3 separate regions of the Homo sapiens genome follow, and regions 1 and 2 are each linked to region 3. Evidence: fine-mapped expression QTL. A gene starts in region 3. Each other region holds a variant in brackets. All regions are shown on one strand. Distances are from middle to middle. Region 1 has its middle 18 kb from the start of TUBA1A. Region 2 overlaps DDX23 (DEAD-box helicase 23). Region 3 holds the start of RND1 (Rho family GTPase 1).

Region 1 (10,388 bases), 310 kb before region 3:
GTGCACACACCCACAACTGGCTAATTAAAAAAAAAAAAAAAAACTTTGTAGAGATGGGGTCCAGCTATATTGCTCAGGCTGGTCTCGAACTCCTGGGCTCAAGTGACCCTTCTGCCTTGGCCTCCCAAAGTGCACGGATTATAGATGTGAGCCACTGTGCCTGGCCTCAGTGTGTTTTTGATAATTATCAGTACTATATTTAAGATTATATGTAAATTAGCCCAGCACTGTTGTTCACGCCTGTAATCCCAGCACTTTGGCAGGCCAAGTGTGGGTCACAGGTGGATCATGAGGTCTGGAGTTCAAGACCAGCCTGGTCAAGACAGTGAAACCCTGTCTTTACTGAAAATACAAAAATTAGCTGGGTGTGGTGGTACATGCCTGTAGTCCCAGCTACATGGAAGGCTGAGGCAGGAAAATCTCTTGAACTGGGGAGATGGAGGCTGCAGTGAACCAAGATTGCACCACTGCACTCCAGCCTGGGCAACAGAGCGATACTCTGTCTCAAAAAAAAAAAAAAAAAAAAAAAAGAATTATATGTAAATAGAGTGTAGCTTTGAATTTGGCAATTAAGTGAAAGATTATATGCTATAATGGAAATAGATGCCTAAGATAAAAAAAATCAGATAATTTATTGGACCATCTTTCCACTGCTCTGAAGAAAGTGGGTAGTATTTGAGCGCTAGGCCAAAAGTTTTCACTTAAATATATACATATGAACATGTAAAAATATATACACAAAAATTATATAAAGAAAAGTGAACAAAAGTAGATCCAAAGTTCTATATTTGGTCAAGATATAGTTTTGTACATGAACCAAGTGGATGGATTCACTTACCATAAATGGTGCAGCCAATGTGGAAGTGAGTGTGATTTGCAGTTGAGTTAGGACATACCTGGTAGAGTGGATCAAAATTGACTGAGGCGGCTGGGCGTGGTCGCTAATGCCTGTAGTCCCAGCACTTTGGGAGGCCAAGGGAGGCGGATCACCTGAGGGTGGGAGTTCGAGACCGGCCTGACCAACATGGAGAAACCTCGTCTCTACTAAAAATACAAAATTAGCCAGGCGTGGTGGCACATGCCTATAATCCCAGCTACTCAGGAGACTGAGGAAGGAGAATCACTTGAATCTGGGAGGCAGAGGTTGCGGTGAGCCAAGATCACGCCATTGCACTCCAGCCTGGGCAATAAGAGCAAAACTCCGTCTCAAAAAAAAAAAAAAAATTGACTGAGGCAGGGTGCAGTGGCTCATGCCTGTAATCCCAGCACTTTGGGAGGCCTTATCTCTAAAAAAAAAAAAACAAAAAAACTTTTTTTTTTTGTTTTTTGTTTTTTTAAGACAGTCTCTGTCGCCAGGTTAGAGTGCAGTGGTGCGATCTCGACTCACAGCAACCTCCGCCTGCTGGGTTCAAGCGATTCTCCTGGCTCAGCCTCCCAAGTAGCTGGGACCACAGGCGCATGCCACCATGCCCAGCTAATTTTTGTATTTTTAGTAGAGACAGTGTTTCAGCATGTTGGCCAGGAGGGTCTCGATCTCTCGACCTCGTGATCCACCCACCTTAGTCTCCCAAAGTGCTGGGATTAGAGGCATAAGCCACCGAGCCTGGCCTGTAATTTTATTTTAGTAGAAACTGGGTTTCACCATGTCTGCCAGGCTAGTCTTGAACTCCTGGCCTCAAGTGATTCACCTGCCTTGGCCTCCCAAAGTGCTGGTATTACAAGCGTGAGCCAATGTGCCCAGTCAAAACAATTTTTTTTAATTAGCTGGGCGTGGTGGCGCAGCCCTGTAGTCCTAGCTACTTAGGTGGCCAAGGCAGGAGGATCCCTTGAGCTCAGGAGTGCAAGGCTGCAGTGAGCTGTGATCATATCACTGCACTCCAGCCTAGACGACAGAGCAAGACCCTGTCTCAAAAAAAACCACAAAAAACAAAAACAAAAAAACCCTGAGACATAGGGCAGGCTTCCATCTAGTAAATGGAGTAAGGAGGTAGGAAACAGCTGTAGAAAGAAAATGACACTTGCCGTGGACAGTAGCACATGCCTGTAATATCAACATTTTGGGAGGCTGAGGCAGGAGTATCGCTTGAGGCCAGGAGTTTGAGACCAGCCTGCACAACATAACACGACCCAGTCTCTCTTAAAAAAAAGAAAAAAGAAAAAAGAAAAATTTAATTAGCTGTGTGCAGTGGCAGTGCCTGGAGTCCCAGACACTCAGGAAGCTGAGACAGGAAGATCTCTTGAGCCTGGGAGATCAAGGTGCAGTGAGCTATGATTGGCCACTGTATTCCAGCCTGGGCAACAGAGCAAGACTCTGTCTCAAAAAAAAAAAAAAAGAAAAAAAGAAAAGAAAAGAAAATGAGAATGACAGTAACATACCACCATTTCCAATCCAGCATCAGAAGTAATGAATCAAAAGGTCCAGTATAAAGTTGGGCTCAGTGGCTCACACTTGTAATCCCAGCATTTTGGAAGGCTGAGGTAGGAGTATCACTTGGGCCAGGAGTTTGAGACAAGCCTGGGCAACATGGCGAGACCCTGTCTCTACAAAAAATAAATCAGCTGAGTGTGGTGGCCAATGTCTGTAGTCCCAGCTACTCAGGAGGCTGAGGCAGGAAGATCACTTGAGCCTAGGTGGTCAAGGCTGCAGTGAGCCATGATCACATCATTGCACTTCATCTTGGGTGATAGAGAGGAGACCCTATCTTTAAAAAAAATTAAATGAGGCCAGGCAGGGTGGCTTACGCCTGTAATCCTAGCACTTTGGGAGGCCAAGGCGGGCAGATCACAAGGTCAGGAGATAGATACCATCCTGGCTAACATGGTGAAACCCTGTCTCTACTAAAAATACAAAATATCAGCTGGGCGTTGTGGCACATGCCTGTAGTCCCAGCTACTCAGGAGACTGAGGCAGGAGAATCGCTTGAACCTGGGAGGCGGAGGTTGCAGTAAGCCAAGATCGCACCACTGCACTCCAGCCTGGACAACAGAACAAAAATCCGTCTCAAAAAAAAAATTAAATGAATAAAATAAAAATTAAAAGAAAGTCCAATGTAATAAGACGAAGAGGAGCTAACCCTAGAGAAAGGAGCTTAAAGAGATCAGGCCAGGTATCCAAGAAATAACACAAGGGGAAAACATCAGGGACCTAGGCAGAGGCCTGGTAGGCAGACTGACTGGCTCCCATGTTAGGGATTATATAAGGAAACAACAGCTCAATGCACCTTTGGGTGTTGGGTGTCCAGGATATTGAAGGCCAGATATTTAAGGTCTTTTTGCCTGTTGGTCAGAAACCTCCCACAATTCCTTGCCGCAAGGGCCTCTCCAAAGAGTAGCAGACAGCAAATGGCTTCCCTCAGGACAAGTGAGCAAGACAGCAAGAGAGAGCTGCCAAGATGAAAGTCACAGTCTTTTTGTAATGTAATATCGGAAGTGACATCTCATCACTTTTGCTGTAGCTAATAAGAAGTGAATCACGCATGGCCGGGTACGGTGGCTTACGCCTATAATCTCAGCACTTTGGGAGGCCGAGGCAGGTGGATCACCTGAGGTCAGGAGTTAGAGACCAGTCTGGCCAACATAGTGAAACCCTGTCTCTACTAAAATTACAAAAATTAGCCAGGCGTGGTAGCACAGGCCTGTAATCCCAGCTACTCAGGAGTCTGAGGCAGGAGAATCACTGGAACCCGGGAGGCGGAGGTTGCAATAAGCCAAGACTGCGCCATTGCACTCCAGCCTGGGCAACAAGAGTGAAACTCTGTCTCAAAAAATAATAATAACAATAATAATAATAATGAGAATTTAACCAATAAGTACATATGATTACATAGATTCTGTAATTCTTAGAAAAATCACAGATCCTGGATCTAGTTTTCTCTTCTCAGGCTTGCAAATTATAAATAAATAAAAGAAGTGCCTCTAAAAGATTCATAACCAAACATAATGCCAAGTCTTGTTTTTCTACAATATATAGTATCTCTATTTACATAAAATTATATATGTGTATATGCCTAGAGAGATGTCTAATAGGATCTTTATCAAATATTAAGAGTATTGGCCAGGCTTGGTGGCTCGCGCCTGAATCCTAGCACTTTAGGATGCCAAAGCAGGTGTATCACTTGAGGCCAGGAGTTTGAGACCAGCCTGGGCAACATAGCGAAACCCTGACTCTATAAAAAATACAAAAATTAGCCAGGCGTGGTGGCATGTGCCTGTAGCCCCAGCTACTAAGGAGGCTGAGGTGGGAGGATCTGTTGAGCCAGGAGGTGGAGGCTGCAGTGAGCTGTGATAGTGCTACTGCACTCCAGCTTAGGCAACAGAGAAAGATAAAAAACAAAAAAATTGGAGCTGATTGCTTAAGAAGTTATTTTTCCCTGAAGTACTGGCATTTAAACAGGGAATTTTTAGAAACTAAAGATTCAACTTTTAAAGAAATCTCCAGGAAGAGAATTTCAAGCACCATCTGAGCAAAGATGCTATTTTGGGTAGCTATTTTAAGTATCCTGAGCCGTTAAAATCAGTGCACAGTGATAGGCTAATAGTCACTCTTCCTACCTGAAGGCTAACTCAGTCCCTCACACTTTATCACTTGATTTTTCTTTTCCTAATATAACAGGTTTGTTGAAATATAATTCACATACTGTCCAATTCACCCATTTAAAGTATACAATTCAAGGCCAGGCGAGGTGGCTCATGCCTGTAATCCTAGCACTTTGGGAGGCCGAGGTGGGTGGATCACCTGAGGTCAGGAGTTTGAGACCAGCCTGGCCAACATAGTGAAACCCCAACTCTACTAATAATACAAAAATTAGCAGGGCATGGTGGCGCATGCCTATAATCCCAGCTACTCGGGAGGCTGAGTTGGAAGAATCGCTTGAATCCGGGAGGTGGAAGTTGCAGTGAGCTGAGATCACACCACTGCACTCCAGCCTGGGTGACAGATACTCCATCTCAAAAAAATAAAAATAAAAATAAAAAAGTAAAAAAAAAA[TG/G]TTTTAAAAAAGTATACAATTCAATGGCTTTTAGTATATTAAGAGGTGTGTGATCACCACAATTTTAGAACATTTTCATCACCCCCCAAAAAAACTCTGTAACCTAGGCAACCACTATCTCCAGGCAACCACTAATCTAGTTTCTGTCTCTGCATATTTCCCTATTCTGGACATTTAATGTAGAAGGAAGCATACAATATGCAGGCATTCATAACTGGCTTCTTTCTTTCTTCTTTTCCTAATCCATTCAAGTACATCTATTTTGGAAATATTTCCATTTCAATGATCCAAATTGTGATGAGGAACACCACCAGGGCATGAAATTTTAGAATATAGCAATCTCTTTGTATTATTAATTGATATACACGCCATAAAATATACACACCATAAAATTCACCCTTTATAATTTTAAAGTCTCTAGTATATTCACCAGCTTGTGCAATATCTGTCCTTTTAAATTTTTATATTTGTCTGTTCACTAGTTCCAGAATTTAATTTTGTCATTCATCAAAAGCTCAAACTGTGCACTCATTAGCAGTCACTCCCCATTATCTCCTTCCTTGTACTAGCTCATGGCAAACACAGTAATCTACTTTCTGTCCCTATGAATTTGCCTATTCCGGACATTTTATACAAATAGAATCATGTAATATAGGGCTTCGTTATCTTAACACAAAGTTTTCTTTTTTTTTTTTTTTTGAGATGGAGTCTTGCTCTGTCACCAAGGCTGGAGTGCAATTGCATGATCTCAGCTCACTGCAACCTCTGCCTCTGAGGTTCAAGCAATTCTCCAACCTCAGCCTCCCAAGGAGCTGGGATTACAGGGACGTGCCACCATGCCCAGCTAATTTTTGTATTTCTCGTAGAGATGGAGTTTCACCATATTGGCCAGGCTGGTCTAGAACTCCTGACCTCAGGTGATCTGCCTGCCTCGGCTTCCCATAGTGCTAGGATTACAGGGGCCACTGTGCCAGGCCGAGCACAATGTTTTCAAGGTTCATCTATATTGTAGAATGTATCAGTACTTCCTTTCTTTTCTGGGGGAGCGGGGTGTGGAACGGAGTCTTGCTCTGTCACCCAGGCTGGAGTGTAGTGGCGGAATCTTGGCTCACTGCAACCTCCGCCTCCTGGGTTCAAGCAATTCTTCTGCCTCAGCCACCTGAGTAGCTGGGACTACAGGCATGCGCCACCATGCCAGGCTAACTTTTGTATTTTTAGTAGAGACTGCCTTTCACCATATTGGCCAGGCTGGTCTCAAACTCCTGACCTCGTGATCCACCTGCCTCCGCCTCCCAAAGTGCTAGGATTACAGGTGTGAGCCACTGTGCCTGGCCAGTACTTCTTCTTATTGCCAAATAATATTCCATTATAGGGATATACATTTTCTTTATTAATTGATGGGTTGTTTACATTTTTTGGCTATTATGAATAATACTGCTGTTAACTTTTGTGTACACGTTTTTGTGCAGTCATATATTTTCATTTCTCTTGAGTATACACCTAGAAGTGGAATTGCTGGGTCTTACTATAGATCTGTTTAATATTTCATGGAACTGCCAAGATATTTTCCCAAGTGGTTATATCATTTACATTCCTACTAGTAGTGTAAGAAGGTCCAATTTTTCCACATCCTTACTAAGACTTGTTATTTTCTGTCTTCTTTTATTATAGCCATCCTAGTGGGTGTGAAGTGGTATCTCACTGGGGTTTTGATTTGCATTTTCTGATGGCTAAAGACTTGAGTACCTTCTCATGTGCTTATTGGCCATTTGGGTATCTTCTTTGGAGAAGTCTACATTTAGAGCCTTTGCCCATTTAAAATTTTTATTTTATTTTTTAAATAGAGATGGGGTCTTGGCCAGGCGTGGTGGCTCATGTCTGTAATCCCAGCATTTTGAGACCCCGAGGCGGGCAGATCACCTGAGGTCAGGAGTTCGAGACCAGCCTGGCCAATATGGTGAAACTCCAGTCTCTACTAAAATACAAAAATTAGCTGGGTGTAGCAGCGTGCACTAGTAATCCCAGCTACTCGGGAGGCTGAGGCACAAGAATTTCTTGAGCCCAGGACAGGGAAGTTGCAGGTTGCAGTGAGCTGAGATTGCACCACTGCACTCCAGCCTGGGTGACAGAGTGAGACTCTGTCTCAAAAAAAAAAAAGAGATGGAGTTTCACTATGTTGCCCAGGATGGCCTCAAACTCCTGGGCTCAAGTGATCCTCCTGCCTCAGCCTCCCAAGTGCTAGGATTACAGACGTGAACCACTGCACCCAGCCTAAAATTTTATTATTCGTCTTTTTATTACTGAGTTGTAAGAGTTCTTTATATGTTCTAGATACAAGTATCTTATATATGTATAGAGAAAAATTCTCTTCAAACTGTTTTTCCTCTACTCTCAAACCACAACAATCATCAAACAGAAGACAACTTCTGTGACCAAATGTGTGGAGGATTTCTCCACACACCAAGTAGCAGATACCAGCTGGGTGTCCTCTAATTCAGTTCCTATATTATCACTCAGAGATAGTGTCAGATCCCACAGGTTGAGGGTTCAGTCCCCAAGACTGCCCCAGCCCCCGACTCTAACCCCACACACACCAGTCACAAGTTCAGCCCCCGGGACTTCTGACCGACTGGTTTCAAGTTGACGCTCCCATGACCCCTTCTTTGGGTTCGATTAGTTTGCTGGAGCAGCTCACAACACTCAGGGAGACACATTCACCAGTTTATTATAAAAGATATTGCAAAGGATACCGATAAAAAGAATAGGTAGGGTGAGGTATGGGGGAAGGGGTGTGGAGCTTCCATCCCCTCCCTGGGCGCACCACCCTCCAGTAACCTCCATGTGTTCAGCTGTCTGGAAGCTCACTGAGCCCTGTCATCTTGGGTTTTTACAGAAGCTTAAAGACATCAGCATTCCTTCTCCCAGGTTATAGGGTGGGACACTCTCATGGGAGGGTATTAAGACCTACAATCAGAAAGGTCGGGAAAGATTAGGCTGGACCTGGTGGCTCACGCCTGTAATCCCAACACTTTGGGAGACTGAGGTGGGCAGATCACCTGAGGCCAGGAGTTCGAGACCAGCCTGGCCAACACAGTGAAACCCCCATCTCTAATTAAAAAAACACATACAAAATTAGCCAGGCGTGGTGGCGCGTGCCTGTAATCCCAGCTACTCGGGAGGCTAAGGCAGGAGAATTGCTTGAATCCAGGAGCCAGAGGTTGCAGTGAGCCGAGATCACAACACTGCACTCCAGCCTGGATGACAGAGTGAGAACCTATCTTAAAATAAAAAAGAAAGAAAGAAAAAAAGGTCGGGGAAGATTAGCATGAACAGAGGGCAGGAGAACATCAGATGCCTGCCCTGAGGCTCAACACACCCAACATTCTAACAAAAGACTGTAAAGAGGGATATGGAAGTTATGAGCCAAGAACCATAGATGAAAACCAATATATAACACTACAGATATATGATTTGCAAATATTTTCTTCATTTTGTGGGTTGTCTTTTTACTTTCTTGATAGTGTGTCTTTTGAAGCAAAGAAGTTTTTAATTGTGATGAGGTCAAATGTATCTATTTTTTCTTTTGTTACTTATGCTTTTGGTGTCATACCTAAGAAGCCTTTGCCTAACTTAGCGTCATTAAGATTTACTTCTAGGCTGGGCGTGGTGGCTCACGCCTGTAATCCCAGCACTTTGGGAGGCCAAGGCGGGCAGATCACCTGAGGTCAGGAGCTCGAGACCAGTCTGGACAATATGGTGAAACCTCATCTCTATTAAAAATACAAAAATAGGCTGGGTGCAGTGGCTCACACCTGTATTCCCAGCACTTTGGGAGGCCGAGGTGGGCAGATCACAAGGTCAGGAGTTCAAGACAAGCCTGGTCAACATAGTGAAACCCTGTCTCTACTAAAAATACAAAAATTAGCTGGGCATGGTGGTGCGCACCTGTAGTCCCAGCTACTCGGGAGGCTGAGGCAGAAGAATCACTTGAACCCGGGAGGTATAGGTTGCAGTGAGCCGAGACTGTGCCACTGCACTCCAGCTTGGGCAACAGAGTGAGACTTCATCTCAAAAAAAAAAAAATAAAACTAAAAATATATACAAAAATAAGCCAGGCGTGGTGGCATGCGCCTGTAATCCCAGTTACTCAGGAGGCTGAGGCAGGAGAATCGCTTGAACCCGGGAGGCAGAGGTTGCAGTGAGCTGGAGATCACGCCATTGTACTCCAACCTGGGCATCAAGAGTGAAACTCCGGTCTCAAAAAAAAAAAAAAAGGATCACTTTTAAAAAGAGACAGCAAGAATAGAACAAGGAAAGCAGTAAGAAGTAGATTATTTTAGTGTCTGAGAGAAAGATGGCAGACATTCAGGTTATGTTTTGTTAAGTAGAGCTGACAAGATTTGCTGATGCGTTAGATGATAAATATTAGAGCAGGAGAGTGAGAGAGAGAAGTCAAGGATAACTCAGAGGTCTTTGGGCTAAGCAACTGGGTGAATAAAGGTAACATTTACTCAGATGGAGAATCCTGGGAGAAGAAAGGAGTGGTCTGTATGTGAGTGTGTGGACTGGAGTGGAGTAGAATTCAAGAGTTCTGTTTTGGACATGATAAATTTAGGATGCCTATTAGGCATCCAATCAGAGATGTAGAGTAGGCATGTGGATATGTGTTTCAGAAAATAGGCCTGGGTAGAAGATACAAATTTGGGAGCTACCAGTATATAGATATTTAAAGTCATGAGACTAGATGATTGTACATCTTTTCTTTTTTTTTTTTTTGAGATTGAGTTTTGCTCTGTCGCCCAGGCTGGAGTGCAGTGGCGCCATCTCGGCTCACTGCAAGCTCTGCCTTCCGGGTTCATGCCATTCTCCTGCCTCAGCCTCCCGAGTAGTTGGGACTACAGGCGTCCGCCAACACGCCTGGCTATTTTTTTTGTATTTTTAATAGAGACGGGGTTTCGCTGTGTTAGCCAGGATGGTCTCGATCTCCTGACCTCGTGATCCACCCACCTCGGCCTCCCATAGTGCTGGGATTACAGGTGTGAGCCACTGCGCCCAGCTGAGTGTACATATTTTCTTATGAAATTGGATTATGTGACCATATCTCTTTTTTTTTTTTTTTTTTTAGATGGAGTCTCACTCTGTGGCCCAAGCTGGAGTACAGTGGCTCAACCTCGGCTCACTGCAGCCTCTGCCTCCCGGGTTAAAGCAATTCTCCTGCCTCAGCCTCCTGAGTAGCTGGCACCTGTAGGTGCCTGCCACCATGCCTGGCTAATTTTTGTACTTTTAGTAGAAACAGGTTTTCACCATGTTGGCCAAGCTGGTCTCAAACTCCTGACCACAAGTGATTCACTTGCCTTGGCCTCCCAAAGTGCTGGGATTACAGGCATGAGCCACCATGTC
Region 2 (10,388 bases), 20 kb after region 3:
CTAGTCTTCTCCAGTTTGTTTGCTATGGCACCACAAACTATTAGGTTGCTGAAACTATAAATTTAGGAGCTATCTTTGTGTCTGCTCTTTCTGCTTCTTCCTTAGTAAGTCCTGTTAGCTTTGCCTCCAAAATATACTCTGACGCTGCCTACTTCTTTCCATCTCCATCGCCACGTTCCTAGAACAAGCCACTGCCATCTCTTGCCTAGAGTACCATAATAGCACTCTCAGTGGTTGTGTTTTCACTCTGTCTCTCTGCTATATATTTTCTTGCAAGTCACCAAAGTATTAGATTGCTTCCTGTTTAAAGCTCTTCTAAGATCCCCATTGCAGTTAAAATCCAAGTTAACTCTACTCTGACCTGTAACACATTTTCATTATCTGACTCCTGCCCAGCTCACTGAACTCATCCTGAATCAGTATTCCTCCTGCATTAGTGCTTCCCAGGGTCAAGAAGTCTTTCCACCTCAGCCTGGGCTCAGGTGATCCTCCCCAGGCAGGAGCGAAGGGGCATGGGCCCCATAGGTAGTATTGGCTCCTGGGGGCACAAGCCGTGTTCCTGGACGATATTTTCCTCCCAGGCCTCTGCCTATGAGCTCTTGAGCACTTTTGAGCTCAGGCATTCCACCCACCCTAGCCTCCCAAAGTGCTAGGATTACAAGTGTGAACCACCACACCTGGCTGATTTTTTTTTTTTTTTCTCTCGAGACAGAGGGAGTCTTGCTCTGTCACCCAGGCTAGTGCAGTGGCACTATCTCGGCTCACAACAACCCGCACCTCCTGGGTTCAAGCAGTTCTGCCTCAGCCTTCCGAGTATCTGGGATTACAGATGCCTGACATCACGCCTGGCTAATTTTTGTATTTTTAGTAGAGACGGGGTTTCACCCTGTTGGCCAGGCTGGTCTCGAACTCCTGACCTCATGATCTGCCTATCTCAGCCTCCCAAAGTGCTGGGATTACAGGCGTGAGCCACTGCTCCTGGCCTCCGGCTGATTTTTAACTGTTTATAAATGTAAAATTTTATTGTTCAAAATAGACGGGAAGTCTTGCTATATTACCCTGGCTGGTCTCGAACTCCTGGGCTTAAGTGATCCTCCCGCCTTGGCCTCCCAAGGTGCTGGTACTACAGGCATGAGCCACCAGGCCTGGCCAAACAAATATGTTTTTAACTGACAAACGTGTAGTTGGGCTCACACCTGTAATACCAGCACTTTGGGAGGCTGAGGCCGAAGGATCCCTTGAGCCCAGGAGTTCAAGACTAGCCTGGGCAACAAATTGAGACCTTGTCTCTAATAAAAATTTTAAGAATTAGTTGGGGCCGGGCATGGTGGCTCATGCTTGTTATCCCAGCACTTTGGGCACTCAGGGCGGATCACCTGAGGTCAGGAGTTTGAGACCAGCCTGGCCAACATGGTGAAACCCCGCCTCTACTAAAAATACAAAAATTAGCCAGGCGTGGTGTGGCACGCGCCTGTAATCCCAACTACTCAGGAGGCTGAGGCAGGAGAATCACTTGAACCTGGGAGGTGGAGGTTGTAGTGAGCCAAGATCATGCCATTGCACTCCAGCCTGGGCGACAGAGCAAGACTCCATCTCAAAAAAAAAAAAAAAAAATTAGTCAGGTGTGGTGGCATGCGCCTATAGTCCCAGCTACTTGGGAGGCCTAGGCAGGAGGATCGCTTGAGCCTGGGAAGTCAAGGCTGCAGTGTGCCGTGATTGTGCCACTGCCCTCCATCTTGCGTGAGAGGGTGAGACCCTGTCTCAACAACAACAACAACAAAACAAACCTGACAAACATGCTAAGCTAGTTCACATTTCTTGTATCTAACAAGGGTTTTTTACCCTGATCTTTTCATGGCCCTCTTTCCCATCATTCAAGTCTCAGCTTAAATGTCAACTAAAACTTCTTCCCTGAGCCATCTATCTCTTGTTATACCCCTACCCATCATATCACTGTTTTATTTTCTTCATTAGCATTCATTACTATTTAAAATCCTTTCCGCTACACTAGAATTTAAGCTTTATGAAGTAGGAGACTTTGTTTTCTTTTTTTTTTTGTTTTTTGTTTTGTTTTGTTTTTGAGACGGAGTCTCACTCTGTCACCCAGGCTGGAGTGCAGTGGCATGATCTCGGCTCACTGCAAGCTCTGCCTCCCGGGTTCACGCCATTCTCCTGCCTCAGCCTCCCGAGTAGGTGGGACTACAGGCGCCCACCACCACGCCCGGCTAATTTTTTTGTATTTTTAGTGGAGACGGGGTTTCACCCTGTTAGCCAGGATGGTCTTGATCTCCTGACCTCTTGATCTGCCCGCCTCAGCCTCCCAAAGTGCTGGGATTATAGGCGTGAGCCACCACGCCCAGCATGAGACTTTGTTTTCTTTACTGCTTTGTCTCCGTTACCTACAACAATTTCTGGCACCTTGTAGGTGCTCGGTGAATATTTGTTGAAAGAATGAATGAAATCCAGGATGCTGTACAGAGAAAATAGCCTTCCTTTGGGATTGTTTTCTTAGGGCTGTAAGTGTTTTTTTTATTTTTTATTTTTTGGTGTGTGACAGGGTTTTGCCCTGTCACCCAGACTGGGGTGCAGTGGCACAATCTCGGCTTACTGCAGCCTCTGCCTCCCGGGCTCAAGCAGTCCTTCCACCTCAGCCTCCTGGGTAGCGTGTACCACCATGCGTGGCTAATTTTTTATATTTTTAGTAGAGATGGGTTTTTGCCATATTGCCCAGGTTGGTCTCGAACTCCTGGACAAGCGATCCACCCACCTCAGCCTCCCAAAGTGCTGAGATTACAGGCATGAGCCACCACACCCAGTCAAGACATAGGTATTTCTTTCTTTTTTTTTTTTTTTGAAACGGATCACGCTCTGCTGCCAGGCTGGAGTGCAGTGGTATGATCTTGGCTCACTGCAACCTCCGCCTCCTGGGTTCAAGTGATTCTCCTGCGTCAGCCTCCTGAGTAGCTGGGACTACAGGCACGTGCCACCATGCCTGGCTAATTTTTGTATTTTTAGTAGAGATGGGGTTTCACCGTGTTGGCCAGGATGGTCTCAATCTCCTGACCTCATGATCTGCCCGCTTTGGCCTCCAAAAGTGCTAGGATTACACGGTGAGCCACCATGCCCAGCCCAAGACATAGGTATTTCTGTGTGATAGCCATGATGTACTGATACAGAACAATCAGTCATTTCTCAGGTGATTGTGAGATAAAATGGGTTGTCCTCACCTTTTGAAAGTGCTTCTTGTTCATTTTTCTTTTCTCATCTTTATACAATCTTTCTTAAGGATATATGGCAGGGAATGGCATGAGAAAGGGGCTTGTAAGCTAAAGCTTAAGGAACCATTCGAGCTGAACCATTTGGGGATAAAATAAGTTGCGAGAAATGTATCCCAAGTCTTTGGGATGATGATGAGGTGGTTGCAGATTCAGGCTTGCTGCAGTTTTAGCTCCTGGCTGAACTAGAGTTCATAGCCCAAAGAAGAGTTGACAGTGTGGGAGTGGTGTTCGGTGTCTCCCAGGTAGGAGGGAGACAGAAAAAATTCCTGCTGAAACCTTTCACAAAACTGGGTTATGCAGATGACCAAGGTTGTGAAAATCTGAATAGGGAATGTCAATCAGGACTTCTGCAACCTCTAGTTTTGGGTATTTAAAATATATATCTTTGAAATAATTATAGTTTCACAGGAAGTTAAAAAATGTGTATAGAGGTTCTGTGTACCCTTCACCAAGTTCTTCCCATTGCATAATTAGAGGTACATTTCTTTTAATCTGAGTAAAAGTGTGTTTCTCCACTTAAATTCAGGTTTTCCTTGTGGTGCTAATTATAACGTAATCCAGATCTCAAAGTTAAACTTTTTTCTCCATTGAGCTTTCTTTATGAGCTCAAGAAAATTTATCTCTCTCAGACGTATGAGTGCTAACTGATCCTAGTGGGTTGGCAGACCTAATAAACTTCAAAGTAAGCAATATAGGATGTTTCTAGAAATAGTTGGTACACTGTTCATACACTAACACTTCTTTTAATACTCTTTTGTAGTCTAATTACAAAAACATGGTATATTCACTGTACATATTTAGAAATGAATATATAAAAAGGAATCGACCAGGCACTGTGGCTCACGCCTGTAATCTCAGCCTTTTAGAGGCTGAGGCAGGAGGATTGCTTGAGGTCAGGAATTTAAGACCAGCCTGGGCAGCATAGTGAGACCCTGTCTATAAAAAAAATAAATTAGCTAGGCAAGGCAGGAGGATGGCTTGAGCCCAGGAAGTTGAAGCTGCAGTGACCTATGATTGCACCACTGCACTCCAGCCTGGGTGACAGAGTGAGACTCTGAAAGGAATTACAGGGAGACAATATAGTGAGTAACGATGGCCTGTGGAGCCAGACTGCCTGCAACTCTGCCACTACCTGTCTGCCCTCAGACAAGTTCCTTTATATACCTGAGCTCCACCGTTCTCATCTGTACGGTAGACATACTAATATATCCACCTCATAGGGTTGTTTTGAGGGTAATTGAATTATATATAAGCAGTTTAGAGCAGTGCCTAGTACATTGTAAGTACTCTTCCTACTCATTACAGATGGCAGGAGAGCTGGCTGACAAAAAGGACCGTGATGCATCACCTTCCAAGGAGGAAAGGAAGCGATCACGGACTCCTGACAGAGAGCGGGATAGAGACCGGGACCGGAAGTCTTCCCCATCTAAAGATAGAAAGCGGCATCGTTCAAGGGATAGACGTCGAGGAGGCAGCCGTTCTCGCTCTCGTTCCCGTTCCAAATCTGCAGAAAGGTAAAGTAACTTTGTATGTTATTACATGGGAAGGGAGAGTACGTTTCAGATTTCTTCCTTCTTGGTTCTTCTGATGCCTCCAGTATTAGGCATCTACTTTTTATTTTTATTTTTTGAGACAGAGTCTCGCTCTGTTTGTTACCCAGACTGGAGTGCAGTGGTGCGATCTCAGCTCACTGCAAGCTCCGCCTCGCAGGTTCACGCCATTCTCCTGCCTCTGCCTCCTGAGTGCGTAGCTGGGACTACAGGCGCCCGACACCATGCCCGGCTAATGTTTTTGTATTTTTAGTAGAGATGAGGTTTCACCGTGTTAGCCAGGATGGTCTCGATCTCCTGACGTGATCTGCCTGCTTCAGCCTCCCCAAGTGCTGAGATTATAGGCGTGAGCCACCGCGCCTGGCCTTTTTTTTTTTTTTTTTAAAAGATGGAGTTTCACTCTTGTTTCCCAGGCTGGAGTGCAATGGCACGATCTCGGCTCACTGCAACCTCTGCCTCCCAGGTTCAAGCAATTCTCCTGCCTCAGCCTCCCGAATAGCTGGGATTACAGGCATGTGCCACCACACCTGGCTAATTTTGTACTTTTAGTAGAGACGGGGTTTCTCCACGTTGGTCAGGCTGATCTCAATCTTCCGACCTCAGGTGATCCACCCACCTCAGCTTCCCAAAGTGCTGGGATTACGGGCGTGAGCCACCACGCCCGGCTAGGCATCTACTTTTTGTACATTAATCTACTCCTAGCCCAGTTGGACCTGCAGGTGTTTTCAGTTTTCCTCAGTGACCCAACTCTTAAAAGTTGAGAGGGGGCCGGGCGCGGTTGGTTCACGCCTGTAATCCCAGCACTTTGGGAGGCCGAGGCAGGTGGATCACGAGGTCAGGAGATCGAGACCATCCTGGCTAACACAGTGATACCTGATCTCTACTAAAAATAAAAAAAAAAAAAGTTGAGAGGGAACTAGTAAGGTGAAGGTCCGGGTTATCAAGGAAGGTTCATCTGTGGCCGGGCGCGGTGGCTCATACCTATAATCCCAGCACTTTGGGAGGCCGAGGTAGGTGGATTACTTGAGGTGAGGAGTTTGAGAGCAGCCTGGCCAACATGGCAAAACCCCGTCTCTACTAAAAATACAAAAATTAGCCAGGCATGGTGGTGCACATCTGTAATCCCAGCTACTCGGGAGGCTGAGGCATGACAATTCCTTGAACTCGGGAGGCAGAGGCTGCAGTGAGCCGAGATCACACCACTGCACTCCAGCCTGGGCGTGAGAGTGAGACTCCATCTCAAAAAAATAAAAAAGGAAGGTTCATCTGTTCACATA[G/A]TCCGTGACCTGTCATTGCCGTTAATATTTAACAGTACATCTCTGATCTATAAAAGCTTCTTAGAATTCCCTCGTTATTTCCGTGAGAGATACATTCTCTAATTTGTAAAACATTACTTTGGGACGAGAGTATAGGAACTTTCTCAGGGCTGCAGTGAAGCAAGATACTTTGGAAATACCAAGTGAACTCTTAAATTTGCGGTCTTCCAGAGAACGACGGCACAAAGAACGAGAACGAGATAAGGAGCGGGATCGGAATAAGAAGGACCGAGATCGAGACAAGGATGGGCACAGACGGGACAAGGACCGTAAACGATCCAGGTACATGAAGGAATGAGAGGGGGCTTTAGGGGAATGCTCCCATTTCTTCTCTGCACCTGAGTTTGCTCAGCTTCTTATGAAAGTAGATTTCTCGCCAGGCGTGGTGGCTCACGCCTGTAATCCCAGCACTTTGGGAGGCTGAGGCTGGTGGATCACGAAGTCAGGAGATCGAGACCATCCTGGCTAACATGGTGAAACCCCGTCTCTACTAAATATACAAAAAATTAGCCGGGCGTGGTGGCGGGTGCCTGTAGTCCCAGCTACTCAGGAGGCTGAGGTAGGAGAATGGCGTGAACCCGGGAGGCGGAGCCTGCAGTGAGTCGAGATCACGCCACTGCACTCCAGCCTGGGCGACAGAGCAAGACTCTGTCTCAAAAAAAAAAAAAAAAAAAGAAAGAAAGAAAGTAGATTTCTCTTAACAGATTCTGTTGGTAGTTATTACAGAGCTCTCTTTCTTATTTATTTTTATTTATTTTTTTGAGGCAGGGTCTCTTTTGCCCAGGCTGGAGTGCAGTGGTGTGATCACAACTTACTGCAGCCTTGACTCCCCCAGGCTTAGGTGATCCACCCACCTCAGCCTCCTGAGTAGCTGGACTACAGGCATCTGCCACCAGATTTTGTTTTTTTTGGGTTTTTTTTTTTTTAATTGATCATTCTTGGGTGTTTCTTGCAGAGGGGGATTTGGCAGGGTCACAGGACAATAGTGGAGGGAAGGTCAGCAGATAAACAAGTGAACAAAGGTCTCTGGTTTTCCTAGGCAGAGGACCCTGCGGCCTTCCGCAGTGTTTGTGTCCCTGGGTACTTGAGATTAGGGAGTGGTGATGACTCTTAACGAGCATGCTGCCTTCAAGCATCTGTTTAACAAAGCACATCTTGCACCACCCTTAATCCATTCAACCCTGAGTGGACACAGCACATGTTTCAGAGAGCACAGGGTTGGGGGTAAGGTCACAGATCAACAGGATCCCAAGGCAGAAGAATTTTTCTTAGTACAGAACAAAATGAAAAGTCTCCCATGTCTACCTCTTTCTACACAGACACGGCAACCATCCGATTTCTCAATCTTTTCCCCACCTTTCCCGCCTTTCTATTCCACAAAACCGCCACTGTCATCATGGTCCGTTCTCAATGAGCTGTTGAGTACACCTCCCAGACGGGGTGGTGGGCGGGCAGAGGGGCTCCTCACTTCCCAGTAGGGGCGGCCGGGCAGAGGCGCCCCTCACCTCCTGGACGGGGCGGCTGGCCGGGCGGGGGGCTGACCCCCCCACCTCCCTCCCGGACGGGGCGGCTGGCCGGGCAGAGGGGCTCCTCACTTCCCAGTAGGGGCGGCCGGGCAGAGGCGCCCCTCACCTCCTGGACGGGGCGGCTGGCCGGGCGGGGGGCTGACCCCCCCACCTCCCTCCCGGACGGGGCGGCTGGCCGGGCGGGGGGCTGACCCCCCCACCTTCCTCCCGGACGGGGTGGCTGGCCGGGCGGGGGGCTGACCCCCCTACCTCCCTCCCGGATGGGGCGGCTGGCCGGGCGGGGGGCTGACCTCCCCCACCTCCTTCCCGGACGGGGCGGCTGACTGGGCAGAGAGGCTCCTCACTTCCCAGTAGGGGCGGCCGGGCAGAGGCGCCCCTCACCTCCCGGACAGGGCGGCTGGCCGGGCCGGGGGCTGACCCCCCCACCTCCCTCCCGGATGGGCGGCTGGCCGGGTGGGGGGATGACCCCCCCACCTCCCTCCTGGACGGGGCGGCTGGCCGGGTGGGGAGCTAACCCCCCCCACCTCCCTCCCGGACGGGGTGGCTGCCGGGCGGAGACGCTCCTCACTTCCCAGACGGGGTGGCTGCCAGGCGGAGGGGCTCCTCACTTCTCAGACGATGTGGCTGCCGGGCGGAGGGGCTCCTCACTTCTCAGACGGGGCGGTTGTCAGGCAGAGGGTCTCCTCACTTCTCAGACGGGGCGGCCGGGCAGAGACGCTCCTCACATCCCAGACGGGGCGGCAGGGCAGAGGCGCTCCCCACATCTCAGACGATGGGCGGCCTGGCAGAGACGCTCCTCACTTCCTAGATGGGATGGCGGCCGGGCAGAGGCTGCAATCTCGGCACTTTGGGGGGCCAAGGCAGGCAGCTGGGAGGTGGAGGTTGTAGCGAGCCAAGATCACGCCACTGCACTCCAGCCTGGGCACCATTGAGCACTGAGTGAACGCGACTCCGTGTGCCATCCCGGCACCTCGGGAGGCCGAGGCTGGCGGATCACTCGCGGTCAGGAGCTGGAGACCAGCCCGGCCAACACAGCGAAACCCCGTCTCCACCAAAAAAATACGAAAACCAGTCAGGCGTGGCGGCGCACGCCTGCAATCGCAGGCACTCGGCAGGCTGAGGCACGAGAATCAGGCAGGGAGGTTGCAGTGAGCCGAGATGGCAGCAGTACGGTCCAGCTTTGGCTCAGCATCAGAGGGAGACCATGGAAAGAGAGGGAGAGGGAGACCGTGGGGAGAGGGGAGAGGGGAGAGGGAGCCTGAAGCTTTTCTATCTATGGATTCTTCTCTGAATCTTTGGGGGTTTTTTTGAGATGGAGTTTTTGTTCTGTTGCCCAGGCTGGAGTGCAATGGCACGATCTCGGCTCACTGCAACCTCTGCCTCTTGGGTTCAGGCAATTTTCCTGCCTCAGCCTCCCAAGTAGCTGGGAATACAGGCATGCGCCACCATGCCTGGCTAATTTTTGTATTTTTAGTAGAGACAGGGTTTCTCCATGTTGGCCAGGCTGGTCTCGAACTCTTGACCTTAGGTGATCCGGCCACCTCGGCCTCTCAAAGTGCTGGGATTACAGGCGTGAGCCATTGTGCCTGGCCTGTATACAGAGTTCTTATCAGGCCCTGAAAGTATAGGTTAGAATTCAAGGCAGAGGACAGAATGCTCCTAACAGAAACTCAGTGGGGTTGTTTGAATTATCTTGTAGATTAAGCTTAGAGCAGGTATGGGGAAAGGATTGTTGGGATTGATAGGAATGAAAAATGATGAGGGAATATAGATAGCAGTATCTTCTTGGCTTGTGGTGGTGGCCATGTAGGCTAAATTCATTGTATATTAAAGAGTTAAGGAGGGCCAGGCGCTGTGGCTCACACCTGTAATCCTAGCACTTTGGGTGGCCGAGGTGGATGTATCACCTGAGGTCAAGAGTTCGAGACCAGCCTGGCCAACATGATGAAACCTCGTCTCTACTAAAAATATAAAAATTAGCCAGTGGTGGCAGTACTCGCCTGTAGTCCCAGCTACTCAGGAGGCTGAGGCAGGAAAATTTCTTGAACCCAGGAGGCGGAGGTTGCAGTGAGCTGAGATCACACCATTGCACTCCAGCCTGGGCGACAGAGTGAGACTGTGTCTCAAAAAAAAAAAAAAAAAAAATTTTTCTCTAAACAACCACACCTGGCTAATTTTTGTGTTTTTACTAGAGACAGGGTTTTGCCATGTTGGCCAGGCTGGTCTTGAACTCCTGACCTCAGGTAACCCACCTGTCTTAGCCTCCCAAAGTGCTGGGATTATAGGCATGAGACACCGCGCCTGGCCTAGGGGAAATATTTTTGACATCAGTAGTAAAGTCCCACTTCCCAAAAGAGATTAGTCTCAAAAGGAGATTTGGGTAGAAAGGGGCCAAGACAGGGCCATAATTAGGTTTCAGAGCTGGCAGAATGACCATGCCTGCTAAGAGAGTTTCAAGACATGATAGATGACCATGGGCCAGTCTTGTTGAGTCATGGGGAAACTTCCATTCTCTTTTCGGGGCTCAACTTGAACCTCATCCAGGCACTGAAGTAAGAGTGATGTGGACCTTGTTCCTTTTCCTCAAAGCTTATCTCCTGGTCGAGGAAAAGACTTTAAATCTCGGAAGGACAGAGACTCTAAGAAGGATGAAGAGGATGAACATGGTGATAAGAAGCCTAAGGTAAAGGAGAGGAAGGATATTTTTCATCTTCAACT
Region 3 (10,388 bases):
GACCCAGGCAACTATTAGCCTACTTTCTGTCTTTTCGGATTTGCCTATTCTGGACATTTCATATAAATGGACATAGTCTATATGGTCTTTTGTGGTTGGCTTCTTCCACCTTGGCATAATGTTTTCAACTATAACCTTGTTTTAAATTTTTCTGATCTTGATAGGGAAGAGCCACCTTTCCTTTTTTCGTTTGTTTGCTTGTTTGTTTGTTTGTTTTTTTGAGACAGCATCTCCCTCGGTCGCCCAGGCTTGAGTGCAGTGGCGCAATTTCAGCTCACTGCAACCTCTGCCTCCCGAGGTTCAAGCTATTCTCCTGCCTCACCCTCCTGAGTAGCTGGGATTACAGGCACCCGCCACCAGCCTGGCTAATTTTTGTATTTTTAGTAGAGATGAGGTTTCACCATGTTGGCCAGGCTGGTCTCGAACTCCTGACCTCAAATGATCCACCCACCTTGGCCTCCCAAAGTGCTGGGATTATAGGTGTGAGCCACTGCGCCTGGCCCGGAAGAGCCACTTTAATGTATTAATCTGGCTACAGACTTTTATTTGATTTTTAAAGTTTTTTTGTAGAGATGGGGTCTCACTCTATTGCCTAAGCTGGTTTTGAACTCCTGGGCTCAAGTGATCCTCCCACCTCAGCCTCCCCAAATCCTGGGATTATAGGTGTGAGCCACAACACCTGGTCTTGGCTATGGAGTTTGAAATAAAGTTATTTAAAAGAGGTTTAAACAAATTTGGAGGAGAGAATCTAAGTGCTAAAATAATAATAATAATAATAACATCTAGGCCAACCACGCTGGCTCACGCCTGTTATCCCAGCATTTTGGGAGGCCAAGGTGGGTGGATCACCTGAGGTCACGAGTTCCAGACCAGCCTGACCAACATGGAGAAACCCCGTCTCTACTAAAAATACAAAAATTAGCTGGGTGTGATGGCACATGCCTGTAATCCCAGCTACTTGGGAGGCCGAGACAGGAGAATCGATTGAACCCGGGAGGGCGAGGTTGAGGTGAGCCAAGATCGTGCCATTGCACTCCAGCCTGGGCAACAAAAGCAAAACTCTATCTCAAAAAAATAAATAAATAAATAAACTAAATAACATCTAAAAACTTCTTCTCTAGTTAAATCCCTCACATTGCATTTAAGGAAATAGGCACCCAGAGAGGGAAGTAACTTACCCAAAGGCACACAGCTTGTTAAAGGCAGAGCGAGGTCCAAGGCCTAGACCTGCTGAACTTCAGTTCCATCCTTTTCCTGTTACCTCCCTGCCCACTGATCTAACACACACGCTTTCACACACATAACACCCTTTCCACCAAAACTCATAAACATATGACCCACAAAATATCCTTGGAGACACATCTTGGGCCTCAGCCATGGTGGAGGCTGCTCTGTATAATGGCTCGGGCCTTCTGCTACTTGACCCTGAAATGCAGCCACCCAGGGAAGAATCAGTGTTGGCACCAGCTCTCAGAATTTCTGTCTTGGAGGAGCTCAGGAATGGCAATGTTCTTAGAAGCCAGAAGAAGCTGTTTGCTTAGCAGGAACAATTTTTACTTATTCTGAAAGTTTATTTGGAGTGGTGGATGAATGGTGTGTGTAGGGGGAGGCTGGTAGAGAACATGGAGAGAAGGCTAACACCTGTGGGGTTGTGATTGGAGGGAACTCAGTTAAGGGTTAGGAGGATGTATGGGGGACTGGGTACGGTGGCTCATGCCTGTAATCCCAGCACTTTGGGAGGCCGAGGCAGGCGGATCACAAGGTCAAGAATTTGAGACCAGCCTGGCCAACATGGGGAAACGTCGTCTCTACTAAGAATACAAAAATTAGCTGGGCATCGTGGCACGTGCCTGTAATCCCAGCTACTCAGGAGGCTGAGGCAGGAGAATCGCTTGAACCCGGGAGACGGAGGTTGCAGTCAGCGGAGATTGTGCCACTGCACTCCAGCCTGAGCAACAGAGCAAGACTCTGTCTCGGAAAAAAAAAAAAAAAAAAAGAGGATGCATAGGAACTCTACTGATGCTTCCAGAACTAAGCCCAGATGAGACTGAAGGTAGGGGACAGGAGGATACAGAAGGAGAAGGTCAGGCTGAGGGAAAGGACTCCAGATTGAGGCAGTCTATGATCTTACAGCTGTTCCTGGAACTATCCCAAACCCCACTTATAGACAGCTCACAGAGGCTGTCAGGCTGCTGGAAAAGGGCAAGAAGAGGACAAATTCTATCCACAGAACATTATCTGAGGGTGGAGGATGAGGGGAGATAAAGGGCAGAAACCTTCAGAAAGCCTGGGAGAGACGGCAGCCAGCTAATGGTAACATCTGGCCTTTCCACCCTGAAGTTTCCCTCAGGCCATTCCCCATCCCTGGAAGTGAATGGAGCTTAGGACATGGGTGGAGAGCAGGTATAGGCCTTGGCCCCAGAGCCACGACGAGGTTTGACTGGAGGAACACTGGTTAGGCTGTATTCTCAAAACAACATCCACTCTCCTACTGCCTGTGGTGGGCACTAGAAATCTCATTCTTAGAGATCTGTCCCTTTGGGTCTGTGAAAGGCTTTCAAGCATCCTTTATCACAGGGAAACTATCCCTGGGTGGGGCAGCAACAACTGTGAATTAAGAGTAAAGCTCAGGCTGGGGCACAGTGGCTCACGCCTGTAACCCCAGCACTTTGGGAGGCCGAGGCAGGTGGATCACCTAAGGTTAGGAGTTTATGACCAGCCTGGCCAACATGGCGAAACCCCATCTCTACTCAAAATACAAAAATTAGCTGGGTGTGGTGGCAGGCACCTGTAATCCCAGCTACTCGGGAGGCTGAGGTAGGAGAATCGATTGAACCCGGCGGGCACAGTTTGCAGTGAGCCGAGATTGTGGCACTGCATTCCAGCCTGGGTGAAAGAGCAAGACTCTGTATAAAAAAAAAAAAAAAGTAAAGCTCAGATGAAACAAGGCCCAGGAGACACTGGGCTTGACAAGGGAAAGGGACTACTCTCAATTTTGCCCAAAGTTGGTCTTCCTTCAATCACAAATCTCCAGGAGCCCTTATTTGTACGGTCTTGATTCCTGGACAATCAGTGGTTTATTTAAGCTGTGGACAGCCCATAGTTCTGTCTAGTAGAGGCTCCCCAAAATACAGGGGCCCCATCAGTCAGGGCTGTTAAGAAGTTATGAAGCTCGGCTGGGCGCGGTGGCTCACGCCTGTAATCCCAGCACTTTGGGAGGCCGATGTGGGTGGATCACTTAAGGTCAGGAGTTTGAGACCAGCCTGACCAATATGGTGAAACCCTGTCTCTACTGAAAATACAAAAATTAGCCAGGCATGGTGACGTGCGCCTGTAGTCTCAGCTACTCGGGAGGCTGAGACAGGAGAATTGCTTGAACCCGGGAGGCAGAGGTTGCAGTGAACTGAGATCAAGCCACTGCACTCCAGCCCGGGTAACAGAGCGAGACTCCATCTCAAAAAAAAAAAAAAAAAAAATTTATGTAGTTCATCTCAACCTTAGATTGTCCTCCAGCTTCTAATCCCAAAATCCTGGGCCCAGTCTGGACTTTAACCAGGTGACACACATTAGTGCGTCAGTTTCAGTGGGCGTTAACATGGAACTGGACCTGTGCCTGATTCATCCAGGAAGCTGAGCCTAGGCCGCAGAACAAACACCCCTAAGCAGCTTCTGCTAGGCATGGGTGAGAGGCTGTCTGGCCAAACAGTGACTGTGTTTGCTTTGTCTTCTTCCTCTCTCCCACCCCCACTTGCCAGAGTCCCTCATTTCTCTCTGCCCATCACTGGGTCAGGTGCTGTGTGTTTTTTTTATGGATGACTCTAGAAAGTTTTCTCTTTCTCTTTCTCTCTCTCTGTCTTTGGTGGTGAAGGTGATTCTTGAAGAAGAGAAGGCTTTAAAAGGGGCACAGGCCGGGCACGGTGGCTGACGCCTATAATCCCAGCACTTTGGGAGGCCAAGGCGGGCGGATCGCCTGAGGTCGGGAGTTCGAGACCAGCCTGACCAACATGGAGAAACCCCGTCTCTACTAAAAATACAACATTAGCTGGGCATGGTGGTGCATGCCTGTAATCCCAGCTACTCGGGAGGCTGAGGCAGGAGAATCGCTTGAATCCGGGAGATGGAGGTTGCAGTGAGCTGAGATCGTGCCATTGCACTCCAGCCTGGGCAACAAGAGCGAAACTCCATCTCAAAATAAATAAATAAATAAATAAATAAATAAATAAATAAATAAATAAATAAATAAAAGAGGTACAGCAGGAGCTGATATTGGGAGGGGAAATAAAGGGAAGTAAGAACTGGTTTGGATGGGAATTAGAAAAAACAAAAAAGTCAGACATCAGGCCAGGCGCTGTGGCTCATGTCTGTAGTCCCAGCACTTTGGGAGGCTGAGACAGGCGGATTGCTTGAGCCCAGAAGTTCAAGACCAGCCTGGATAACATGGTGAGACCCCTGTCTCTATTTAAAACAAAAGATGTAAGGAAAAAAAAGAAAAAAAATGTCAGAGAAGTTCTGGGCCACCTCCCCCATCCCCTACTCCTCCAAAACACACACACACACACACACCTGTCTATAGTCTAAGCAGGTCCTGCTTTTGTAACCCACCCGGGACAGTCCCTGCAACTCCAGCCTGACCTCACTTCCTGCTTCCATAGCTAGTTTGTTTTTCTGACACTTATTGGTAGACACTCCAGATCATTTCATTTTGCTTCCAGTACCCTTTCCACTTCCTAATACAAATGCAAAACAACCTGGGAATCCCCTTTCAGGGGGAAACAACGGTGCAGCTTTAAGAGAAAGAGAAGGGAGGAAGGGGGCGCTGACTCAGATCCTCAGATCCATTGGCTGCTGGAGGGAATCCCACCTCAGGGATTGGGCGTAACAGAGTCCGCCTCCTCTTGTGATTGGCTCAGCCAGAAAAATAAAAGGCGGCTGTGCCGGCCTCCTCCTCAGTTGGAGGGAGGCAGGGAATCTGGCTTGATTGGCGTGCTGAGACGCACCTGGCGCAACCCTCCCTTCTGAATCGAAGTTCAAGTCCCGCGGACACTGCAACCATGAAGGAGAGACGGGCCCCCCAGCCAGTCGTGGCCAGATGTAAGCTCGTTCTGGTCGGGGACGTGCAGTGTGGGAAGACCGCGATGTTGCAAGTGTTAGCGAAGGATTGCTATCCAGAGGTGAGCTGCCCGCCCGCCCGCTGGCCGGCTTTTCTCCCTGCCTGCCCGCCTTGGGGTAGATTTCCACCTGCTCAGGAGACGTGGCTCCCCCAGCCCCAGCCCATCCTCAGCCGCTTTCTGAGGCTTTACCATCCTCAGCTGCTTTTTGGCTGGAGGACTGCCCTGCCTTAGCTTCCCCTGAGACCTGTTCCACTTCTGCCGCCCCGCTGGCTCCTCCTCACCTCTTCACCCAGAGGACCCATCAGATCCCCTCCACCTTCCTGCGTCCCTGGAGTCTGCTCTCAGGTGAGGGCACTGGAGGCATTTGAAAGTCTGGGGTTTCTTCTTGACGTAATCCCTGCCTATCCGCTCACCTGCTCCTCAAAGGCTCTATGCCTGTGCCTTCAGGCAGGCTTCTGCAGCCCCTCTGTTCACCTGGCCGGGAGGGGTTTGAGAGGAGATGAGCTAGGATTGGCTTTGGCCTGTGGCTCTCTCAAATTGGGAAACACAAATCTGGGGATGGGAGGAATCTGTGTGTGTGTGTGTCCCTGATCGCCTAGGATATGGGGGGCTTACCCCTGGTGTGGTGGTGTGGGGGGGTGTCATTCACATTTCTCACTGCTGCAGAGCAAAGTGCCTGGTCCTCCACAGTCCCTTCCCTCCTGCCCCAGGCATCTCCTCTGGTTTCTTGTCTCCTGTGACTTTACTGTCTCTCTGGTGAGTGCGTGTGTAGCCAGCACTAACCAGGGGATCTGAGGGTAGGGGTGCATGGGGTGAATGTTTCCTCTCTTTTCACAGACCTATGTGCCCACCGTGTTCGAAAATTACACAGCCTGTTTGGAGACAGAGGAACAGAGGGTGGAGCTTAGTCTCTGGGATACCTCAGGTAAGAATTCTGCTCCAAATACCCCTTTCCCACCCCTACTGGTCTGCTGTGTAGCTGCTGTCTTTTAGAAATTGTTTTCCCCTTTGGTGGGGAGAAGTGAAAAAAGAGGATCTGAAGACTCATTAGTTGTGGGGAGGGCTGACAGTTGGTGGACTCAGTTGCATGGTCCAAGGGTGCAGAGTGGGTGAACCCCAGGAGCCACTCTCTTCCCTGGGTCTGGTTCCACCCTTTAGAGGGCTGGGATGGTGAGGTGAAGGGACCCATGAATAGTCCTGGGGGTGGGCAGTAAAACAGGACTTCTCCATTTCCATTCCCTACCACCCAACATGCACGCGTACACACATGCACACACACGCGCGCGCGCGCACACACACACACACACACACACACACACACACCTTTTACTTCCCCAGAGCAAAGCCAAATAAGAGGCAAGAGGCAGTGCTGCTGGAGGCAGCGTGGTTGGGGCGGAGAGACAAGTCTGCTTTGGGGAAAGGTTGCTCAGACTCAGTTTTGTCTCCTGCATTCCATCTTGGGCCACTGCTGTCCTCCTGCCGCAGCTCAGCCCCACTCGTCACACCGCTGCAGCTCGGGGATGAAGCAATGCATCATCGATGTTTTGGAAGTTGGGGGAGATGGCTTAATATAGGGCATAGTCAGTTGTGAATAGTGGCCGGCAGGGCAGAGGGGAGGTTGGCTCTGACTGTTTTCCCTCTACTGGGGTGAGGTAGAATATGCCCTGTCTCTCTAGAATGTAGAAACAATGTTTTTCCAGCCTCTCAGCCCCAAGCCCTTAGTGCTAGGCTATCCTTTGCCTTGATTCTGACCCCTTCCCATTATCTCTTTACCCCAGACCTTTTTCAATAGACTGGCTCAGAGTCATAATTAAGGAGTAAAAGCCGGGAATAAGAGAAAGAAAATAAAATCCACCCCTCCCCAAAAATGCATATTCAGGCTGAGTTTAAAAAGGGACCGTAAATCACTAGGTGTTTCCTGCTACATATAATAAATATGCTGTCCTGCTCCTTCAACAGCTGTTGTTCCCATGCTCTAATTCTGAGGTCTGAAAAGATTGGGGCTAGGGAATGGTTAGACAGACAATGAGCCTTTCCTCCCCAAACAAAAATTCCCCAATCTGGTATGCTTTTCCCTGTTGCAGTTTCAGGGCTTGGGAGGCAGCGTTCTGGTTCTCCTGGGCTGTGCTATGCTGGCAAGATTGGGCTAGAATGCAGCTTGATGGCATGATGTATAATTTTTGGTTTTTCATCTGCTGTACCCTCCCACCTTCCAATCTTCCCAGAATCTTACTGCAGCTCATCTCTTTTCACTACCACCGCCCAAACGCCCTCCCCCCACCTCCTCCCTCCTTTGACAGTCAGAATGCAGCCCTCAAATCCCAAACCAGATCATGGAAAATCAGCAAGTGTAGTCTCTGTTCCCTGTGTCACACCCCCACCCCCAATTTCCGAAAGGATAAAGGCTGTCAGTTATTCTCAAACTCCCTCTTTCAGATTAGGTTCCCATAAGGAAGGAGGAAGTGGCCATGGTGTGTGGGATAGGGTTTCCCAATGTTGGGCTCAGGGTTGACCCTGTTCCCATTATTTACTTGCTAGTCTTAGGGGAGGGGGATTGCTTGGAGCCAAAATGGAGGCCTCCTCCCCTCCCCCTTCCCCAGTGCTGCAGTGCTTCCGCTCCTCAGTGCTGCAGTGGTAAGACCCCACCTCAGAAAGGGATGGAGGAGGCTTGCTGAAGGAGCAGGCAGCTATCCCAACTCCCCTGTATTCCTTTTTTTAATGACCAACATCCCCCCACCAGCTTGGATTCCCCCCAGTTTCCATGGCGATTGTGGTGCAGGGAGAGGGGCTGCTTGCTATTCTGAGCACGGATTGTCTGGGTTCCAAATCCGCTACTGCTCCTTCCCCAGGGTGGAGGGGGCAGGCTCAGCTCCTAGCATTCTCCCATATGGGACCACCTGGGTCTGCATTGCCTATTTCCCTTCCAACGAAGGACTCTTGCTCTAGCCTCTAAATCCCCAGCCATCGGTGCTGCTGTCTTTGAGACTGCCTTCCTGAGATGTGGGGCGGTCAGGAGGTACAGCTTTCCTTTTGCCCTTTTCAGTGTAAGCCGATCTGGGTGGGTGGAGAAGTGGGGCACTGAACCCTTGATTCTCTCCCTCCCCTGCTAGCCTCCTAAAGTTCTGACCCCATGGAAAAGCAGCAGGCAGGTTATGTAACAAGGAGGTTTTTCTCTTCACTGGGGAGACCCTGGAGCAGAAGGGAGTGAAGTTGGGCAGCAGGCAGGCTCTAGAAGAGAGAAGCCCTGAAATAAGTGCTGTCTCTCTGCAGGGCTGGAAGCATCTTCTGGGACTCAGAAAACTAGTAGATCTCCAATTAAGCCTGCTGTAGGAGACCCAAACAGGGCCAAATTATACTCCACCCACTTTATTTTGTCTTCTTTCCCTTTTTCTGGACTAAGGGGGATGATATTCTTTCATGACCTTCTGGCAGACAGTCAGGTCCCAAGCTTCCAGCCGCAGTACATTCCCCCTGGGAGATGGGTGGATCCTCAGGGATTGAGGATGGTATTCCCAGGGCTTTAGGGCTTAGGCCTATTGGGGAAGGAAAACACCATGGCTCACCATCAGCTCTTTCTGGCCTACACCAGGATCTCCCTACTACGATAATGTCCGTCCACTCTGCTACAGCGACTCGGATGCAGTATTACTATGTTTTGACATCAGCCGTCCAGAGACAGTGGACAGCGCACTCAAGAAGGTAAGACTAGATCAACTCTCTAATCTCTAACTCAGCATGAGGACCAAGAAGGAATCGGGACCTTGTCATGAATGCCCTCTTGTATAACATCAAGAAATGGAAGCCAGGGAAGGAAGAGATTTGCCCAAGGCCACACCATTAGCTACAGCTCTGGGACTGGAACTTGGGTCTCCTTACCCCACTGCCTCCCGCCCTTTTTGTTATCCCATGCTGCCTTGCCAGAGGCCCCGCAAGGGAGGGTGGTATTGAAGACTCAGGAAGCAGAGGACGGAGAGTCAGAGAACCTTTAGGTGATACGGTATGAGGGTCAGGCATGGGACCTTTTGGAGGCAGCTTCTATAGACCCTGATCCCAGTCCCACTGAGAATGGGCAAGCCAGGCAGGTCTGAGCTGAGCTGCTGGTATGAAATGCTTAGGTCTGGGCAGATCCACCAATGCTGAGGAGTCCTAGGAAACCTTGTGTATCTAGCATAGTATAGAAGATGCTGGGATCATGTTCTTCCCTTGAGAAGAGACTGGTTGGCTTCCCCCTGGCATTCTGGACTTGTGAGGCCCTTTGGGGTGAGGGGGCAGATCCATGCCTATATGGTTGGCAGAGAGTGGGAGGAGAATTGCCCTTGTGCCCTCTCTGGTGACTGAGCCATAGACTGGGGGAACAGGCTCCTGGGTCAGCACTCTGGGGGCCCCAAAGGCCTCATGGGCAGGAAAATGATGTAATTAGTGCAACGGTGATGCTGTGACTCAGAGGGAGGACTGGGCTGGTGATGAGTGAGGTGATGTGTGTGACGTTGCCAGCCAAGCTTCTCCTGGTATCTGTCTGCCACTAACTCTCCTTCCTTCCTCCTTCTCCTACCCTTCTTCCTGCTCCACCCCTCAGTGGAGGACAGAAATCCTAGATTATTGTCCCAGCACCCGCGTTTTGCTCATTGGCTGCAAGACAGACCTGCGAACAGACCTGAGTACTCTGATGGAGCTGTCCCACCAGAAGCAGGCGCCCATCTCCTATGAGCAGGTGTGTGCGCATGCAAGTGCATGTCGTGGGGTGGAGTGAGGAAGGCTAGAGGCAGACAGCTTGAAATATGGCCCTGGCTCAAATTCTTCCACTATGGCAAGAGAGAATTGCTGTTATAATTAGCAAATGAGTCACCTGGAGAGAGGTGGTGGGCACCTGCTTACCCAGATGTATGCTGTCAGTTAGCAGGTGAGTTATTCCTGTGTGTGCCCACATTTCTAAGATTGTATTCTGACCACCTGCGTTAGAATCATTAGAGGTGTTTGTTAGAATTTCACACACACAAAAAAAAGAGGCCAGGTGCAAGGTGGCTCATGCCTGTAATTCCAGAACTTTGGGAGGCTGAGGCAGGAGGATAGCTTGAGCCCAGGAGTTTGAGATAAGCCTGGGCAACAAAGCAAGACTGTCTCTACCAAAAAAAAAAAAAAAAAAAAAAAAATAGCTGGGTGTGGTGGTGAGTGCCTGTAGTCACAGCTACTCAGGATGCTGAGGTGGGAGGACCGCTGCTTGAGCCCAGGAGGTTGAGGCTGCAAGGAGCTGTGATCATGCCACTGCACTCCAGCCTG

The links. PIP is the estimated chance that this variant, and not a neighbour inherited with it, causes the effect.
Region 1: its variant is fine-mapped to the expression of RND1 in whole blood (TOPMed, PIP above 0.99). The same link has a PIP of 0.9 or more in blood mononuclear cells.
Region 2: its variant is fine-mapped to the expression of RND1 in whole blood (TOPMed, PIP above 0.99).

What each region holds. Positions count from the first base shown.
Region 1 is chr12:49,165,866-49,176,253 of GRCh38, reverse strand. No RefSeq gene overlaps it. Among named protein-coding and RNA genes, the nearest start is that of TUBA1A, 18 kb to the left of the region's middle. RefSeq lists silencers at 2,625-2,830, 5,801-5,994. The variant TG/G (reference allele first, on the strand shown) is at 4,988.
Region 2 is chr12:48,839,978-48,850,365 of GRCh38, reverse strand. It overlaps DDX23 (DEAD-box helicase 23), which reads left to right. Exons shown (of 17, transcript NM_004818.3): 2 at 4,584-4,792; 3 at 6,316-6,426; 4 at 10,260-10,353. The coding sequence starts at 4,584. Among named protein-coding and RNA genes, the nearest start is that of DDX23, 7.0 kb to the left of the region's middle. The variant G/A (reference allele first, on the strand shown) is at 6,106.
Region 3 is chr12:48,860,431-48,870,818 of GRCh38, reverse strand. RND1 (Rho family GTPase 1) reads left to right here and starts at 4,949. Exons shown (of 5, transcript NM_014470.4): 1 at 4,949-5,171; 2 at 5,949-6,036; 3 at 8,701-8,810; 4 at 9,688-9,822. The coding sequence starts at 5,052. RefSeq lists enhancers at 4,626-4,755, 5,016-5,135.